Regions from separate parts of the Homo sapiens genome. Here regions 1 and 2 are each linked to region 3. The links come from fine-mapping of genetic effects on gene expression. A gene starts in region 3. Each other region holds a variant in brackets. All regions are shown on one strand. Distances are between the middles of the regions. Region 1 overlaps VWA1 (von Willebrand factor A domain containing 1). Region 2 overlaps TAS1R3 (taste 1 receptor member 3). Region 3 holds the start of MRPL20-AS1 (MRPL20 antisense RNA 1).

Region 1 (2,748 bases), 39 kb after region 3:
GGAAAGCTGGGGCCCTGGGGGACCCTGCCTTGCTGTGGGGCTGTCTGGGGGGCCCACACCTGAGGCTGAGCATTCCTCCTTTCCCCCAGGTCCACCAGCATCAGCCCCCCGAGGGGACCTGATGTTCCTGCTGGACAGCTCAGCCAGCGTCTCTCACTACGAGTTCTCCCGGGTTCGGGAGTTTGTGGGGCAGCTGGTGGCTCCACTGCCCCTGGGCACCGGGGCCCTGCGTGCCAGTCTGGTGCACGTGGGCAGTCGGCCATACACCGAGTTCCCCTTCGGCCAGCACAGCTCGGGTGAGGCTGCCCAGGATGCGGTGCGTGCTTCTGCCCAGCGCATGGGTGACACCCACACTGGCCTGGCGCTGGTCTATGCCAAGGAACAGCTGTTTGCTGAAGCATCAGGTGCCCGGCCAGGGGTGCCCAAAGTGCTGGTGTGGGTGACAGATGGCGGCTCCAGCGACCCTGTGGGCCCCCCCATGCAGGAGCTCAAGGACCTGGGCGTCACCGTGTTCATTGTCAGCACCGGCCGAGGCAACTTCCTGGAGCTGTCAGCCGCTGCCTCAGCCCCTGCCGAGAAGCACCTGCACTTTGTGGACGTGGATGACCTGCACATCATTGTCCAAGAGCTGAGGGGCTCCATTCTCGGTATGCGGGAGGAGGCAGGGCCCAGGGAGCCCTAGCTGGGAGCCGCAGAAGGAGAGGCTGGGTTGAGACTTTGGGAAGATCTCATGTCCCCAGAGCAGCGGCCAGGGCCTCCGGGGCTGTGGTACCCCTAGGGTGCAGGGCTGAGTGATGCAGCTTGTCTATGCACACTCTTCACTGGGCGACCCGTGTACCCTGCTGAGACGGGGGCAGGCTTGAGTAGCCACCTCCAGGTGTAGCTCCCTGCTGATGTGTCCAGCCCAGACCTCGAGGCCCCAGGGAGTGCAGAGCCCGGGTGTAGGCCCAGGAAGAAGCTTCCAAGTCTGGGGACTCTGCAGATGGGCAGCATGTGCTCCTGAGCATGCCCACCATACCTGGAGAGGGGTGAGCCAGAAAGGTCAGGGACTGCCCCCCCAGAGAGCACAGGGCACCTCTCCTGGGTGGGGACAGCCGCCGAGGGCTTTGAACTAGTTCGGACTGCAGGCCCACTGTGAGGGTTTCCTGAGAGGCCGGACCAGGGAAGGCCTGAGGCAGGAGCTGAGCAGCTCCCATTGGCTTTTTTTCTGGACCTCCCTGCCCCAGCCAAGCCCTGAAGGAGCTGGGGCTGGAGATGAGGAACC[G/C]GCCACTGGCTCAGCCTGCTGCAGCCACTGAAAAATGCCAACCCTGGGGATCTCACCAAGTCTCCGTCTGTGGGTTAATCATCCACCCAGAGCCGGAAGGGGTTGGACTGTGGGTTGGAGAGGGGTGGACGGCCCTCCCCAAGGTTTCCCCAGGGACGTCTGGCCCCTAGTGGCCCCAGGTCACCCAGTGCAGCTGCGCCTGGAGGGGACCAGGAGGAAAGGCTGCCTTAAGCAGCCAAAGGAAAAGCCTGAGGCTGCAGTGCCGAGGGGCCAGGCAGCAGGGTGGGGGCTCCTGGGAAAGAGGCCGGGTCTGAGGGTGGGGGATGGGAAGAAAGTGGCCCAGGCACCCAGCACTGCAGGAGGAAGATCCTGATAGCTTTAACCCAGCGCAGACATTTATGAGCCTCGCCACAGCAGGGTCACTCAGAGGGCTATGTGGGGCTTGGTGTCACAGGTCCAGGAGTCCCCCTCTGGAGAACCCCACCCCACACTCTCCTGGGGACCCAGGGCAGGCAGCGCCTCCAGAACCCCAGGGCCTGCCCCTGTGGTCTCCCATCTCCTAGCTGCAGCTCAGAGAGCCGGGCTGACCTCAGACCCCGGCCTGGCCACTCAGGCTGGGGCTGGTCCTCTGCTCTCAGGCACCACCGTGGACTCTGCCGTCTTTGAGGACCTTTGTCCTGGTCACTGATCTGGCCACTGCACCTCTCCACAAAGGACTGGGTTTGGGGCTAAGGGAGGCAGGGGCGCTTCTGACAGGGCCTGAGGGGGCTGCACCCTTTCCTCCGTCCTCCCCCAGCCAAGGCACGTTCTGAGAATCCCCAGCATCTGCGGGGCATGGCTCCAGCAGCTCCTTGGCCGCGGGGCCCCGTCTTTCCTAGTGGGGCCTCCAATCTCCAGATCTTCCCCATCAGCCAGGGCCGCCCTCCAGCAGCGGAGGAGGAACTGACCGCTGTTCCCTGACCCCCTGCACCACCCACAGACGCGATGCGGCCGCAGCAGCTCCATGCCACGGAGATCACGTCCAGCGGCTTCCGCCTGGCCTGGCCACCCCTGCTGACCGCAGACTCGGGCTACTATGTGCTGGAGCTGGTGCCCAGCGCCCAGCCGGGGGCTGCAAGACGCCAGCAGCTGCCAGGGAACGCCACGGACTGGATCTGGGCCGGCCTCGACCCGGACACGGACTACGACGTGGCGCTAGTGCCTGAGTCCAACGTGCGCCTCCTGAGGCCCCAGATCCTGCGGGTGCGCACGCGGCCCGGTGAGGCAGGGCCGGGGGCTTCGGGCCCGGAGTCGGGGGCTGGGCCGGCCCCCACGCAGCTCGCCGCCCTCCCCGCCCCAGAGGAGGCCGGGCCAGAGCGCATCGTCATCTCCCACGCCCGGCCGCGCAGCCTCCGCGTGAGTTGGGCCCCAGCGCTGGGCTCAGCCGCGGCGCTCGGCTACCACGTGCAGTTCGGGCCGCTGCGGGGCGGGGAGGCGCAGCGGGT
Region 2 (2,748 bases), 64 kb before region 3:
TTCATCACCTGGGTCTCCTTTGTGCCCCTCCTGGCCAATGTGCAGGTGGTCCTCAGGCCCGCCGTGCAGATGGGCGCCCTCCTGCTCTGTGTCCTGGGCATCCTGGCTGCCTTCCACCTGCCCAGGTGTTACCTGCTCATGCGGCAGCCAGGGCTCAACACCCCCGAGTTCTTCCTGGGAGGGGGCCCTGGGGATGCCCAAGGCCAGAATGACGGGAACACAGGAAATCAGGGGAAACATGAGTGACCCAACCCTGTGATCTCAGCCCCGGTGAACCCAGACTTAGCTGCGATCCCCCCCAAGCCAGCAATGACCCGTGTCTCGCTACAGAGACCCTCCCGCTCTAGGTTCTGACCCCAGGTTGTCTCCTGACCCTGACCCCACAGTGAGCCCTAGGCCTGGAGCACGTGGACACCCCTGTGACCATCTGGGCCCCAGAGCCAAGCTGTGTCCCTGTCCCTCTGTGCCCAGACCAGGCCTGCCCAGGTAACCCAGACCCACTGTTCTGGAAAGAGGCCCGGAGGGCTCCCAGGGTACCCGCAACCCACACCGTGAGCTCAGGAAAAGGACGCAGGGAGGCCCCGGCCAGATGGCTGGAAGCCCAAATCAGGCCCTGCCGACCTGACCATGTCCCACCAGGGCCCCCATCCTGCACCCTGCCAGGCACCACAGCAGTGGGAGGCCAGGTGGGGGCACACAGGCATATGCCCAGGGCAGAGCCCGCCGAGGTAGGGGTGGCACCCAGCTTCCTACTCTGCCCTTTGCCCAGTGGGTAGACAGCATCATGACTGTCACCAGTACCAGGGACAGAGCCCAGGTGGGGTGGGGGCGGGGTCCAGCACCACGGCCAGCACCGACCACCAGGACCCCGGAGCCAGCACCATGGACAGAAAACTGCCCACCAGGATCTGACGCCAGCACGCCGCCAGGCCCACACAGGGTCTCCGGTCAGAGTCCCAGGGTCAGCTCCCAGCAGGGCCTAGGGGAGGCTGGACCAGCTCCCTGTGCCTCATTCCAAGGCAGCCCAGCCGGAGAGAAGGGGCACAGGCCACACATCTGTCCCATAAAATTAAACGCTTTTTAGTGTTTAAAATAAGCAGCATTTACACAGAAGCAGCTCTATGTTAACCATCTAAACGCTGGGACTTTGATACAGTATCTACAGCACAGACACGTGGGGGCCAGAGAAGCCAGGAAGGCCGCGATGTGTGCGCGCAGTGTGTGCACTCACCAAGGACGGGCCACCTGACTGCCCATCTCCCCAAGACCTCCCTCCCTGTGGCAGCTGTGCACATCGGGGCCCCTTGACCCTGCGGGCCATGGTCCCTCCCTGCCCTGGCTGGGACACGGTGGGCAGGATGTCCAGCCCTCTCTCGTCTTCCGGTCCC[G/A]TCCTCCACGTACTTTCAGACTGTTGCCGGATGGGAGGAGAGAAGGTGCAGGCTGCTCCAAGGGGCAGCAGCAGGTGGGACAGATGACAGGGTCGCCTCCTCCCCCGAGTCACCGGCCAGGCAATAAATAAATAAATTAGATCCCTACTCCAGACAGGGGGCCTGTGCACCGCAGGGGGTTGCCCCGCATGGACCACCCTGGGGGCCTGGGCACAGCTGTGCAGGAGGTGGGGGTCAGCCGAGAGCCCGAGGGGGTCTTCCTCATCCCAGGAGGGATCCCCACCAGACACAAGGGGTTGGGAGGTCCGAGGCTCTCGCTGAGGGGCAGAGAGGGAGCGCCCCCAACACGGCTGCTCAGACACAGGTGCTGTCAGGAGCTGGAGCAGCCAGGCTGCCAGGGCAGATGGTGGTGGTCCAGCCTGCCCCCCACCCTGCCTCCCGTCCTGGCCCCCACGAAGGCAAGCCCACGCGAGCTCTGCATGCGGCAGGACCGCCAGCTCCCCACCTCAGGCAGGGCTGGGGCATGCGCCACGAGTCACATGATGTCCACGAAGAACTCGCAGGGGTTCCCCATAGCCTTCTGGAAGGACTGGCGGCTGCCTGTCAATTCCGGGGGGACGGCAGCCAGCTCCCGGACAGGGGGTCCCCCGGGTGGCCCCCCCACCACTGTATAGGCCTTGGTCGTGGGGTGGGGCGGGGGGAGCCCCGGGGCGGTAGCCGAGGCCTGACTGCGTGGGCTGCTGCCACGGCTGAGCTGGCCGGCCGGACGCTCTCGCCAGCTGCTCCCCACCCCACTCGGTGCCGTGTGATCCGATTCACTGCCACTGCCCCCAGCTCCCGCCGCCCGACGCTCCTTCTCACGGCCCGGGGCCCGGCGGCTGCTCCGGGTGGACCCACTGCTTTTGCTCCCTGGGAGTGAGAACAGGATGGGGAAGGAGCCTGTCAGCACCAGGCCCGGCCACGTCCAGAACAACCGCCCCCGCCAGGTGACCGGGCAGGAACGGTGGCCCGTGCAGGACGGGTGGGTGGGGCAGCCATGCAGGCGCGAGGACAGGGCCGGCACCCCCAGGGTCGCAGGGGCAGCTGCGGCAGGCATGGGCTGGTGGGGGCAGTGGGAGGCAGGCAGGGTCCTGGGGCAAGCTGGGCGCCCCCACACCTCACCCCGATGCTTGAGCTGAGGGCCTGGTCTTGCGGCTGAAAGACTGAGGTGCCAGCGAGGGCCCCTCATGCCCGGTGCCCCCGTGGCCATCCTGGATTCCCCACCCAAGGCCCCACTGTCCCCCCGGCCCAGGACCCTGGCCGACGGATGACTCAGCTCAGCCCTGTCCTGGGCTCCCAAGACGCAGTGGGAGCTGGAGGG
Region 3 (2,748 bases):
GTTTAGAGCCTCAGGCCTGTATTGTGTTATACAAGCCTTACTGTAACTTAATCAGAAATAAAGAAAATAGGCATCTATGATAGACTAGACAGCTCTGACTGACTCACTTTTTGTCTCTCAGCTGTCGAAGGCGGTGAAACACATTGATGACGTCCCGTATGCGTCTTGGGGCCTCTTCTATCTTGGAAGCCAGGTGGACACAGGCCATTGACACATGCTGAAGCGGAAGCATTGCAACACGCCCATGTTTGTCCCCAGCCACGGCGTCCTGACGGCCGCCAAAGGCTTGAGGGCTATTCAGACCAAAAGGGAGGTGCACCCAGGGGAAAAAAAAAGTCAAGAAACAGAACCCTCCGGCACAGAGCTCAGACTGGGGGGCAAGTACTCACTCCCTTAGTAACCGGGCAAAGTAACAAACCGTTTTACCCTCAACATACTTCGCTGGGAATGAAGTGCAGGAGGAAGCCTTACCTCCATGGAGTGCTTCACGAAGGACTTGGTATAAAAGAACCGCTGGAACAACACCTGCCCGGTAGCCATGGCCACCTAGAGTAGAAGAAAGTTTCCGTATTTTCAAACGCACCATTCAAAGCCTTCGCGGCCGAAAGTCATCGAGTAACGTGGGACTCCCCACGCAGAACCAAACACTGAAACGCTTCCCACGTCCACAAAGGCTCTTCGCGTCCCGCCGTCTCGGGATCCAGCGCACTGGCGGGCGGGGAGGCCCCGGGTCAGGGGCATGGGCTGGCTAGGGAATGGCGCCGAGGCTGGGGTCGGGGCAGGGGCTGGGGTCGGGGTCTAGGCGGGGGCGGTGCGGGCCCGACTCGCCGCCAACAAAGGCGGCTGCCGCCCCAGCGGTTACCTGGGCCGGAGGCTCGCGGCCGCGCCCTCACCTGCGGCAGGCGGAGCAGGATACCGGCCGCCTGGATGAGCTCGCAGCCCACCACGCGGAGGTCGGTCTCTGTGTCGGTGTCGAGGCCGCTCGACATGGACGGCGTGAAACGGAGCTTGTCGTCAGGCAGGAGGCAGTTCTCCAAGGTGATGAGCACCCCGGAGTACAGCCTGTCCCCGATCAGCACCCCCTGCGACCCTGAGGGTGCGCCCCCAGATCCCGGGGCGCCGGCCGCTGCCGCGGGAGCTGCCGACCCTGCAGCACCAGCCGCCGCCGCCGCCGCCGCCATTTTGTGCCGCCGACTCCCCTTCGGCTTCTTCCCTCAGGGCGGCTCCTCGCGAAGCTCCACGGCCGCCACCGCCCCGCCCCGTCGCGTGCCATTGGTTCGGCCCGCGACCAGCGCGACGCCGCCTAGCCGCAATTGGCTACATAACCTGCCCGTCAGCAACGCGCCTAACGCCGACGCCGGAACCTGGCGCGGGTGGGGCGGGCTCGTTACCCAGGGGACTCCGCGGTGCCGGCCGACCCGGAAGCATGTCTGTCCCTAGCGGAGGCGCGGGTGCCGTGCTGAGAGCGCCTGCCTGTGCGCCCCGAGCGGGGCTGGGACTCTTCCAAGATGCCCACGTTCGCACAGAGACCCCGGATCGCGGAAGCTCGCGTCTCGAAAGGCCTGTGGGTCAAGGGGGGCCATCTCGGTGGGATCTGGGGCGGGACGACCCCCACTGCTGAACCCTGGGCGCGGGGCAGGGTCAGAGGCTCCGCTCGGCCTCCCCCTGGATGAGACGCGCATGCCCGGTGTCCCCCGGCCGCCGTCGGCGTCGTGTCTTCAGTCCTTATCGACTCCAGACTTTGGGGATGCGTATTAACGCCAGACTCCTGCAAAGTCTTGCCTTCAACACTCAGCCCCTGGGGAGAGACGGGTGGAGGGATGACTGGAAACGTGGCCTCGACGTCCCTACAGAGCCCCTCCAGCGTGGGGAGGCCTAAGTACCTCAAGGTTCAGGCCCACGGAAGGAGTCGGGGGAGCGAGGCCCGGTGATCTACGTGTGAAGGAGCTTGGACAGGACCTCACAAACGCCAGGGAGACGGCGAGGGGGTTCGTGCGTTTGTAACGTCTTGACATCGCTGATCCTCCCGCAGGCGGTCTCACGCCCTGCCCGTCCTGGGTTCACGGTTTTTCATCACCTGCGGCTGTCCTGCGATCGACCACAGCTGTGCAGGAGGGGCAGGAGGTATCTGTTGCTGCAGTTACCGGAACCTTTGCCAGGACTAGTACAGGACCACGGGTGAGGATGGTGGGGAAGCCTGCGTGGGGCAGGGAACGGTGAGGCAGGAAGAGGGAAGGGCAGCAGAGGCCTGAGTGGTTGCAGGTTCACACACTGAGCTGCCAGTAACTGCCCAGCTCAGACGGGCTCAAATTCAGAAGCCACCATTGCTCCTCACCCCCACCCCCAGGTCAGCTGTCCACTAGCTCTGCCATGACTTGATACTGCAGCTCAAACAGTGCCAACCAAAACCCACTCTCCTCACCGCCTGTTATGGGTAACACGGTATGGTTACAGCTTTACTCATGTCCTCTTTCCCCAGGCTGGTAGCTCAGGGATGTCTCGTCTGTGAGTTACAGCTGCACGCTCTCCAGGAAAGAAGGAATTTCCTCTTCTCTGGAAACCCCACCACACAGCTGGTTTCTCATTGGTGCTGCTTGCCCATTCCCTGAGCTGTGACTGCCAGAGGAGTGGGAGGTTGGTGGTGCCTCCAGCCCATCAGGGGCAGGCCCTGGGACCGCCTGGGAACAGGAGGACTATGGCACAAACCGAGTGAGTGATGGGAGCAACCCGCAGGGCTCTGCCACATCC

Evidence for each region. PIP is the estimated chance that this variant, and not a neighbour inherited with it, causes the effect.
Region 1: its variant is fine-mapped to the expression of MRPL20-AS1 in putamen (GTEx, PIP 0.98).
Region 2: its variant is fine-mapped to the expression of MRPL20-AS1 in whole blood (INTERVAL, PIP 0.99).

What each region holds. Positions count from the first base shown.
Region 1 is chr1:1,436,838-1,439,585 of GRCh38, forward strand. It overlaps VWA1 (von Willebrand factor A domain containing 1), which reads left to right. Exons shown (of 3, transcript NM_022834.5): 2 at 90-647; 3 at 2,244-2,748. Among named protein-coding and RNA genes, the nearest start is that of VWA1, 2.5 kb to the left of the region's middle. The variant G/C (reference allele first, on the strand shown) is at 1,265.
Region 2 is chr1:1,334,219-1,336,966 of GRCh38, forward strand. It overlaps TAS1R3 (taste 1 receptor member 3), which reads left to right. Exons shown (of 6, transcript NM_152228.3): 6 at 1-1,096. The coding sequence ends at 246. DVL1 (dishevelled segment polarity protein 1) reads right to left here. Exons shown (of 15, transcript NM_001330311.2): 15 at 1,060-2,297. The coding sequence ends at 1,924. Among named protein-coding and RNA genes, the nearest start is that of MIR6808, 4.1 kb to the right of the region's middle. The variant G/A (reference allele first, on the strand shown) is at 1,389.
Region 3 is chr1:1,398,126-1,400,873 of GRCh38, forward strand. MRPL20-AS1 (MRPL20 antisense RNA 1) reads left to right here and starts at 1,405. Exons shown (of 3, transcript NR_015434.1): 1 at 1,405-1,564; 2 at 2,033-2,178; 3 at 2,480-2,748. CCNL2 (cyclin L2) reads right to left here and starts at 1,210. Exons shown (of 11, transcript NM_030937.6): 1 at 894-1,210; 2 at 472-546; 3 at 108-217. The coding sequence starts at 1,181. RefSeq lists silencers at 923-1,102, 1,173-1,412, 1,703-1,762 and an enhancer at 2,148-2,691.